Linked DNA regions of Homo sapiens: region 1 is linked to region 2. Evidence: fine-mapped expression QTL. A gene starts in region 2. The other region holds a variant in brackets. All regions are shown on one strand. Distances are between the middles of the regions. Region 1 overlaps FAM135B (family with sequence similarity 135 member B). Region 2 holds the start of FAM135B (family with sequence similarity 135 member B).

Evidence for each region.
Region 1: its variant is fine-mapped to the expression of FAM135B in subcutaneous fat (GTEx, PIP 0.98).

The regions. Positions count from the first base shown.
Region 1 is chr8:138,431,711-138,437,092 of GRCh38, forward strand. The region is part of intron 1 of FAM135B (family with sequence similarity 135 member B); the gene reads right to left. Among named protein-coding and RNA genes, the nearest start is that of FAM135B, 63 kb to the right of the region's middle. The variant C/T (reference allele first, on the strand shown) is at 2,329.
Region 2 is chr8:138,494,351-138,499,732 of GRCh38, forward strand. It overlaps FAM135B (family with sequence similarity 135 member B), which reads right to left and starts at 2,911. Exons shown (of 20, transcript NM_015912.4): 1 at 2,321-2,911.

The DNA.
Region 1 (5,382 bases), 63 kb before region 2:
ATCATGTCCTGAATCACTGCTGTCACGTGGGACTCAGGATCCTCGCATCTTTCCATTCTGTGGCCTTCAGGCTACAGCTTCATGCAAGGCTGGGTCCCTTTAGGTTTGCAAGATGGAATACAGATACTCCAGACTCAGATTGACAGAGAGTCAAGAAGAGAAGAGAGCATCCTCCAGAGGAAAGGCCACTCCTAAGAATGCCTCTCTTGGGAGGAAAACAAAATCATTCCCAGAGGCACCCAAAGATAACCAACAATACCAGACTTCATCAGCCAGAAGTGTGTCATGTGTCCTCCCCTAAACCAGCCACTGGGCAGGGAAGGAGACCAGCACAACTGGCTAATACCCATCAGAACGATCCCTGGGGATGGGTGTAGGCTCCTTCTCCCCTAAATTGTGTTGAGGAGGGATACATGTATAAACAAAGTTGGCACAAAAGAGGAGAGACTACTGGACCCCAACAGTGTCTGATATGAAAGTGATTGTAGTCAGCATAAAGGTAAAATGTTCCTTTATAAAACGTGTTCAGAGAAGGAATCTCACAGGATATGATGCCTGAATGTAGCCCTGAATGATAAGAATGAACAGGCCTTAGGTTCTGTGAAAGAGCTTCCCAGATAGAGGGACTTGCTGGTAAGGAGCAAGAGTGGTATTCAAATTCCTACACTTTGGATCCAAAGCTTGCATGGTCTCCACTACTCCAAGCTGTCTGCTGAAACTGCACCTGTTCCCAAACAACAGTCTCTAATATCATGGTCTTCTGTGCAGTCTTTGACCATGTCCTGCAAACCAGGTGTGTCATCTTACCCATCTTGGTACTTTTCTCCTTCTGCTTGATATATAGAGAGAGTTATACAGGTTATTTTGCCCTAAGCAGGTTATCCACATCCCTAAAATAGGGATAGCATCCGTAGCATCAGGTACCTCCCATCTAATCATCACTAACAGAAGAGGGCAAAATCTAACTGGTAGATATTTTGCTCTTTCATCTTCTATTAGCATAGGAACTCCTTAAGGTCAATGACCATAGCTGGTTCCGATACACATGTACCATGACATCTAACACAGAGTGAACACACAGTACATTCTTGATGAATATACATCAAATTAGACACAGTAGTATAGATCCATGGCTCAGCTTGATTCAATTTGTTGGGGGGTGACGGGGCCCCAGAAAACCTTAATGTTTGTAAAACAGTCCAGGTACCCAACCAAAAGGCACACAGGAAGGAATGACAATGGAACATTGTCCATCCAAAATCTGTTCCCAGAGGACTGACGGGGAAAATACAAAGTCAGACAGAACAATGAGGCAAGAGGCAGGAGAGCAGTCCACTGTATACAGATAGCAAAGGGTAGAGGACACATGTGGAAGGCCTAGAAAGTCATAATAAAATTAGATCTGACTTTTTCCAGCAATGAAGAGTCACTGAAAAGAAAACAAGATTTACTGATTACTTGTTATATTTCAGGAACTGTGTAAGGTATTTTATATATATCTTTAATCTTCATTTAAAAAGATTATTAAGGCCGGGCACGGTGGCTCATGCCTGTAAATCCCAGCACTTTGGGAGGCCGAGAAGGGCAGATCACTTGAGGTCAGGAGTTCAAGACCAGCCTGACCAACATGGTGAAACCCCGTCTCTATTAAAAAAACAAAAATTAGCCAGATGTGGTAGTACATGCCTGTAGTCCCAGCTACTCAGGAGGCTTGAGGCAAGAGGATCAATTGAACCCGGACAGCAGAGGTTGCAGTGAGCAGAGATCATGCCACTGCCCTCCCAGCCTGGATGACAGAGCAAGATTCTGTCTCAATAAATAAATAAATAAATAAATAAATAAATAAATAAATAAATAAAATAATTTTAAAAGAGTATTAAATAAATGTAATCTCTATTTCATAGTTGATGAAATTCATGCTCAGGAAGATCAGGTGGCTGAAGCTCACATGGTGAGATGATAAATCTAGGATTCTACCCAAATCTCTTTGATGTTCAAGTTTATGACTTGTTTTCTTAGCCACATAGTTGACTTCTGACCAATGATTTAAGAAGCTCAACCCAGTAAGAAGAGAGAATGGGTTTGCTGGAGAGGGAGAGAAATCAGAGGTTGGGACATTAGTTAAAACCCGTGGCAATAGCCCAGGACAGAGAGGGTGAAGTCTGGCTCTGAGTATCATTATCAGAAATCAACCATACATAGAAACCAAGTGGATGAAGAGAAGGGAGCAGCTGCAGAAGACACAAACGCATCCACCTTACGGAGATGGGTTCTGGGAAAACAAGCATTTCTGCTTATGCCACTATTACTAAATAAAAGCAGCATTGA[C/T]ATTGCCCTTGGGATTCTTGCTCTAACTCTGGGCACACATTCTAAGCTTAGACAAGCTTTAGTCACAAGGACAAAATATTATTAGTTTAGCTGTGTTTTAGCTCCAGCTTTCTCTATGAATCATGTGTGCATGAATCATAATCACCACTCTTCATATTTTAGAAGCAGATGTATAATTTTTCTTACCCAAGAAAAAAATCAATTGCTGTCTAAATATGAATCTAATGTTGTTTCTGAATCTCTTTGATTTATTCAATTCTGAGCTTTCATATTCTTTGGGAGTGAGAATAATCAGGAAAGCTTACAAGAAGGTGACAAGGTGACACACACTGAGCATTTGCTCTGTCCATGACTGCTCTCCACTTTTCAAAGTCAAGGTGGGTGTAAGTGTTCCCATTATTTTATAGATGAGGAACCTAAGGCTCATATAAGCAATTTATTGGCTTGGGGTCACACAGCTAGTAAGCATCACAAGGTAGGATTTCAATTAAAGAGTGTCAGACACCAAATTATATGCTTCCAATGACCCTTCCCCAGCTTACCTAGCTACAGTGTAAAAATATGGTATTAGGCCAACTGACTGCATGTCACAGTTCTCTTTGGAGATGACATTCAAAGCTCTTCCCAAGACGGCCTTGTCATTTGTTGTTTACTGTCATCTTAGGACACTGCATTAACAGTGGAAAGCTACTTACCTCTGAATATGTTCACTGTCTATGAAATGGGGATACCAATCCCACCAGCCTCTTACAGTTGACATGAAGCACACGGTTCAAGTAGGTGGGGGTACATGCCAGTATTGTGTCACTAATAACAGTGACACCAGTCAGATTGGACACCTCTCAGCTCCAGGACATGATCATGTAATTCCCTGAGCAGTTCTACCCTCCTGCTACTGAATACAAGTTTCCTCTGGCACATTACCTGCTCCACTATCAGACAATGTACATATTTTCAATCTTGCAAGTGTGGCTGAAGCCACACGCCAGCCAGGCGCGGTGGCTCGCGCCTGTAATCCCAGCACTTTGGGAGGCCGAGGCGGGTGGATCACGAGGTCAGGAGTTTATGGCCAAGATGGTGAAACCTCATCTCTACTAAAAATACAAAAAATTAGCCAGACGTCGTGGCAGGCGCCTGTAATCCCAGCTATTTGGGAGGCTGAGGCAGAGAATTACTTGAACCCGGGAGGCAGAGGTTGCAGTGAGCCAAGATAGCTCCATTGCACTACAGCCTGGGTGACAGAGTAAGACTCCATCTCAAAAAAATAAAAAGAAAAAGAAAAAAAAAGAAGCCACATGCCAAACTCCATGATGATGCCTCAATGCACCTCATCTCATTGATGCCCCTAACCAATGGTGAAGCTTGGAGTGTTATCCTCAGGTTACTGATGAGAAAGCTGAAGTTCTGAATGTTGACATGTCCACAGGTGTACTGCTTTATGATGCAGTAGCCTTGCTGTATTTAAATGCAATAAGACTACTAGTGTATTGAATTACATTACTTATTAGAATGCAATAATATTACTTTTATTATTTATCAAATACAATAGCAATATCTATAAGTAGTTATGTATAGTTTTAGAACAGTTTTTGTATTTTCAATTATATTATCTCATCAGGCCTCAATATTCTCTAAAATTTAGGTCTACAATAAATATTTCTAAAAAAAACACATACAAATGAATCAAAACACATATTTGAAGGTCACAACTTGCCCTCTGGTCTGCTCTCAAAATTGTCTTTCTAAATTGCAGATTTTATCCTATCACCCCTTTGTTTAAGGGGTGACTTAAGCAAAGGAGGGGAGACTTCAAATCTGATTTATCAATAGAACTGAAGTAAGCAATTCCAATCATGATTCAAGACTGGGGATCTGGATTTAGCAGATATTTCAAAACCACCTTGTTCTCCTTGTCTTTTTGATCAGGGCTATTTCAGCTTTCTACCATCCTGCCCTTCCTGACCTTCAGACTATACTATCTGTGACAGCCTATGTGCTCCATTGGGTCTCATGTTATGATAACAGTGTCGTAAAAGAGGTGGAGAGGTGGAGACCAGATCCTTCACTTTTACTCACTGTGAAATACAGGGAATATGCAATTTAATGCTTATCTTACATGTGATAACTGGGCATTGGGAAGGGCAAACAAGCGGCTAAGCAAATGCTAAAACGATGAGAGAACCCGGATCTGCAAGAGATGTTCTCTGGGAAGAACTCGGTAAGATCAATGGATATAAATTGCTGAAAAAAATCACACTTATATGGTTACTTCTTCCATTTATCTGGAAAATACCCCTGAGCATTTTTTTTTATGCAATGCATAGCGGCACTGTGATATGAGAGGGTGACAATCATATGATGTGGAAAGGTGGCTCACTCTACAGAAATATTTGTAGAAATGTATTCATTCACACTGGGCAGCAGGAATCAAAGTGTCTGCTTGTTTTGCCAGTGAACACCAGGTCCTGAGTCCAGCCTTCTGTGAACTGCAATGACAGGCTAGTCTGTGTTCCCAGGGACCTCCTCCCACAATCAAAGACTCTAAGGCATCAGTTTGCAACCATGTGTTCACGTTGAACAGAAAATCTTTACACAGCATGTCAACATAGGTGGGCATATTTGATTCTGACTGATTTAGCCATCAAGTCTGATTAGAATGTGACTTTCCAAACAGTGTGAGCATAGCAGGAAGAGGTCTTGAAGTTAAATGAGCTGGTAACATTTTATAAGGGCCATGCAACCTTCAGCAAATCCTTTAAGATTTCTGAGTCTTAATTTCTTGTTCTGTACAATGGAGATGAGAACCTGCCACATAGAGCTGTTGTAGAATAAAATTTATTGACATATTTACTATAGTATCTTCTCATATTCTGAGAGGTTGGAGATTTCCTTGCCTTTGTCCCTTGGACCTTGGAGTGCTGCAGATCAATACTGATAAACAGGATGGCATAAATAAGGAGAATAAAGTCCAAATGCTGTGGCTTGTTTTTAAGGCACCCTGTGCTCTGACCTCCTCCAACGGTGTTACTTCATCTCCTCTCACTGCCATTACTG
Region 2 (5,382 bases):
CAAAGTCAGATAGGGAGAGGCACCTATCATTGGGAAGCATCAAATCAACAGAAAGGACAGGTATGTGTGCAAGCGATGACACAGCACAGTCCATCACAAAGGAGGTCCAGAGTGTTGTGGGAGCACATGAGAGAATATGGGAAAGCTTCCTATAGGAAGGGGCATTTGAGTTGGGTTGTTAAAGGAAGAAAGAAGTGAGAAATTGTTATTCTAGGCAGGGACACCACCATGAGCAAAATCAGGGGCATAAAAGAGCAGAGAATAGTATAAGACAGTCTTGGTTCCTTCCAGAAATTATAATTCCTTCAGCAATAAAATCAACCTGTCAGCATTCAGTCTATTTCAGTCAAATTGAGCAAATATTTGGTAAACACCTGACATTACAGAGCAGAGTTGGATGAAAGTAATCCTGCCCACGAGAAACCCACAACCCGAGGTGAACAGTTAAATGAGTCCCTACTCTGTCTAAATCTCTGTTTATACTGTAAAAAAAAAAAAAAAACTTAATCCACCCATTGTGAGCAGGCCTCACTGTTTCAAACTAGACGAGTGCTGCATTTGATGGCAAAGCACTTGACCTTCAGCACTTGTAGGCAAGGTGGATGGCATGCAGCATTTTCCCCTGAGAAGCCCTCTTTATGTTGCCCTGAGTGAATCTTGGACCAGACTACAGTGTTTCCACTGTGAGTCACTGACTAATATTTCCACTCTCTTTTCGTAGTTGATGGATGTTTAATGATTTGCCAATCTGAGGAAGAGAGATTCTTTAGAAAACAATAATCCCTTTTACTTGCACAAGACATCAGGTTTTAAAAAGCCCTTCCCAAACATCCTCTCCACATCCCATTGGATTGTGATTGAGCCTGGTAAACTGCAAGACTTGTTAGTTAGTATCCCCATTCTCCAGATGAGAGAAAGAAGCCTCAGTGAGGTGGAACAACTCAAGGTCACACAGCAGGTGCATGAGGAAATCAGAGTTCAAATCCATGTTTTCTGACCCTCCAATCTGGTCCACTTTCCTCTACACCTAACCATCTGTCTAAGCTCTGATAACATCATCCATATTATGACATAAATCTCCAGATGAGAGGTTGGCCAAATCACATCCCCTTGGGTAACATAACCACACCATAAATTAAAAGCCCAATTAAAGAACATAGCCTTTTAACTGGGACTTAGACTGTCCCCCGAGGCCACGATATAAAGGAAGAGCCCTTTCAAAGTCAATGGCTGCCTATCCTGGATATTATTCAGAGGCCTACTTACCTACATGCACGAACTTTCAGACCCTAATTATTCACATGCTATCTTCCTTCTTCCGGGGCCCTGGTCCCAGCTGATCTGAGTTTGTAATCACTCCCCAAGCTCTGGCCCTCTCTCCAGCCTGCAGATGTAGTTAACAGTCCATCACACTGTATGGACAGCCCAGGTGCCTCTCGGCTTTGACACATCACTTAACATCAAGAGCATCATAACCTGATGGAAAACAATGCCCCCTGGTTCAAATGGACAACTGAAGCGGTGTCTCCAGCTGTCTGAAAGCGAGATAGTTTGCCAGTGGCCAAGGAGCAAGGATTGTCACTATGAGCGATGTGATTCTTGTTTTGCTGGCAAAGTGGGGTGGGGAGCTAGAAATGAGGTGGGGAGAAGGGGAGGGCATAGTCTTGACTGCTAGCTCAAAATTTTATTTCTATTCCCATCCTATCCCTAATAGTCAACGGCAATAACATGATACTCCTGTGTCCCAAAATAATAACAGTTACTACTTGCCTCGTCTAAACATCCCCTCCAGTGACTGGGCTTGAAGCTGGCTCTACAGATCAAGAGCTGGTCCCTTTCCATGTCACAGCTGAGCTGCAGTGTCCCCGCACACCCCTGTCCCCAGCCAAGCCACAGGAAGAACGGGTCTGTGCATTCGCCTGGATCACAGGGAATCGCTGCCACTGTCCCCTCCACCCCAGTGCGGTCTTCTCCTGAGCCTGGCCCCCGGGTTCCCTGGCTCCAAGGACCCCAATGGCCAAGGTCTGCATGCGCCCCCTCAGCCTCCATCTGGGACTCCTGGGGGGAACCCCTCATTAACCCAGCCTCTCCGCTCCTTTCACAGCCCTGGCCCTTCTTATCCCCTCAAGACCTGTCCAGATGTGCAGCAAACCTGGAGGGCAGAGAGACTGGGGAAAATCGAGGGAGATAAACCACATTTTGCGGCGGAATCGCTGTTCCGTGACAGAAAGCCATCCAACTGGCAACCACGCTTGCAGAAGCGTCACTACCACCGACGAGAGAGTTTTGCAGCTGCCGACCCCGAAGCGCTCTCACCTACCTGTCTCCACTGCAGGGCTCCCCTCTCTCTCCCCCGGGGGCCGCGCTCCTGGGTCCCTCTCTCTCCTCTTTCGCCGTCTCTGGCCGCCAACAGTTGCGGCGGCGGCGGCGGCGGGCGGACTGGGGAGTCCGCAGCACCTGCGAGCTGGTGTTGGGTCCCCGCGGCGAGGCTGCCTGGAGGAGGAGCGAGCGGATGCTGCCCTCGCCCGCCGCCGCCGGTGCTGATGCGGTTGCTATGGTTATGGAACCCCGCAACTGCCCCCCTCTCCGTGCAACAGCTGCCCGGCCGCGGCCTCCGGGCAGCCCCAGCGAGCAGGCGCCAGGACGCGAGGCTGTCAGCGCGGTCGGGGGAACGCAGCCGCCAGCGCCGCAAGAAAGCAAGGACCGACCGGCTGCGCCCGCGCCGCTGGGCTGGCGCCTCCCGGGCTGCGCTCACCTCTGGCGCCCTCACTCCTCTCCTTCCTCCGCCGGGACGCGGCCAGACCCTCCGCGCCGCGCCGCGCGCCCTCGCGGCCGGGAGAGCCCGCCCTGCTGCTCCCGCTGGCTCCGCTCCGCAGCCGCTGCGCACCGCGTGGGTAGACGCTGCGCGACTGGCTGGCGGCGCGGCTCACGCGCTCCCACCTCGGTCCCTCTCCGCCGCGAGGCCCTGATGGGAGCCCGGGGCGGGCCGCCCGGCGGCCAAACCCCGCCCGCTCGGCCGCCCGGGTGCCCAGGGCGCAGGCTGCGGCCCCGCGTGCGGCCCTCCCAGACTGACCGGCGCGAGCATGCTCAGTCCCCGCGGCGGGGCTCCCCTCTCGAGCCAAGACCCCAGGCCTCGGGCAGGAAAAGGGTCCCTGCAGATATCCGGGGGCGGGGCGCGGCGGAGAACTGGCTGGGAGGGGACTGTTGAACTTGGAAGAGAAGCCCAGGCAACAAGTAGATGCCTGAGAAAGGGTAAAAGCGCTGAGCAACCCATACCTCCAATGCGAAGTCAGCAGTGGCCTTCAACCAGCCAGCCGGCCCGTCATCCGATGGGCTCCTCACTTCATGCTGAACGTGGGGGTTCACAGACGTGTGAGATTCTGTCCACGGAGGAGGGAGAGGAAGATTGGGGAGGGTTAAGCCAGCTCCCGTCTACTGAGCATTCTTAAGGGGCATTGGGAACTCTAATTATCACCACCACTGTGCTGGCAAGTTCTCGTGGCATGCCTGTGACAGATGACAAAACAGCCTTAGAGAAGGAGCCAAGACTGGGACTCGGAAGCCCAGTGACCCGTCCACTAGACTCGGCTGCACTAACTCCACCCAGGAGGAGGCAGGGAATGGAACCAGGCATTAGAGGATGACTATGTCCCCCATTAGACTGGGCTGCACTAACTCACACCCCAGGAGGAAGCAGGGAATGGAACCAGGCAATTGCAGTTGGCAGGAGGAGTCTCTAACCCTGTCAGGCTGGGGGCAGGGGCAAGTAATTGGGGAAAGATACCTGAAAAAAAGGTATAAGAACAAATGAGTGGGGCGGTGAAGGGTAGAGAAGACTGCTCTTTCCAGGACAAGAGGAGCAGGGTACAGAGGCCTGGAGGCAGGACAGAACAGCAGGAACCTAGCAGCAGCAGGCAAGGAGAGGTGAGGCAGGCGAGTGGTGAGGTTTACAGGGCAGGCACTGCACACCAAAGGCCTTGCGATCCAAGTGAAGGGGTTGGAATTTGACAATGTGACCCTTAGGATGGGAAGGGAATGGGGAAGGTGGTGGGGAGGAGGGCAGTGAAGCAGTTTAAGCAGGAGAAAGGCTGGGTGGGAATGAAGGGAAGATCACCTTAGTTGAAGTGTGTGTGGTGCTGGCTAGGGTGGGGATTAAGGCTGCAGAAAGAGGTGTCCTAAGGAGGCTGTTGACATAGTGGGCCTGGGCAGATGGAGGCTCTGAGCTATCTACCCTGCTTGTCCTCCCCACAGCACCCAGCAAGCCCAGGGCAATGCATACCCTCAGTAAATGTTTGGTGAATGGCAAATAAATATGAATTTCTCAATAGAGAAAATGGGTGCTTTTCTTTTACAATATTTGTCTCTTAAATGTGTTCATAACCATATGGCATTTATTTTGCTATTGACATTGCATTTTTATGCAACCTTATTTTTGAAAGTCAGTGCAAGCACTCATTATTTTCCTCTGCATTTTCTAGTCCCCAGCAGTAGAGATATGCCAGGAGCATAGGATTTACTTGTATTGGATGTATTGTCTGGATAAAACAGCTCCATGATTTATTAAGTGAAAAAGCAAAGTGCAGAATAGATAAAATAAGATAATATTAAAATAAGACAACTGTTGTGAAACAAGGAGACAGATACACATATTTGTATTGCTTGCATTGGCATAAAAATACGCTAGAAGGCTATGTAAGAAACTTGGAGAAGTAGCTATTAGCTATGAGGGTGAAGATGGGTGGAAGAACTAGGTTGACGAGGTTAGAGTGAGAGTGAGAATTTTGACATACACTATTTTTTTGTTTCTTGAGACAGGGTCTTACTTTGTTACCCAGGCTAGAGTGCAGTGGCACAATCTTAACTCACTGCAGCCTTTAACTCCTGGGCACAAGCAATCTTCCCACCTCAGCCCCTCCAAGTAGGTAGGACTACCATGCCTGGGTAATGTTTTTATTTTTTATAGACCTACCACCATGCCTGGGTAAAGTTTTTTATCTTTTGTAGACCTACCACCATGCCTGGGTAAGGTTTTTATTTTTTGTAGAGATGGGGTCTGGCTATGTTGCCCAGGCTAGTCTCAAACTCCTGGGCTCAAATGATCCTCCTGCCTCAGCCTTGCTGGGATTATAGGTGGGAGCCACTGCACTTGACCTCAACATACACTTTTATAAAACATTTTGATGTTTAAGCCAAAAAGAAATTGCACATATATGTAAGTGTGTATGTGCATATATATAAACACACACATACGTATGTGTGTATATGTGTGTGTATGTGTGTGTGTATATATACATATACACATAATCTGTATATATAATCCATGACTAGAATCTCAGTGAATCTTGAAATAACCTCAAAGGCAACATGCAACGTGTGCCAGTG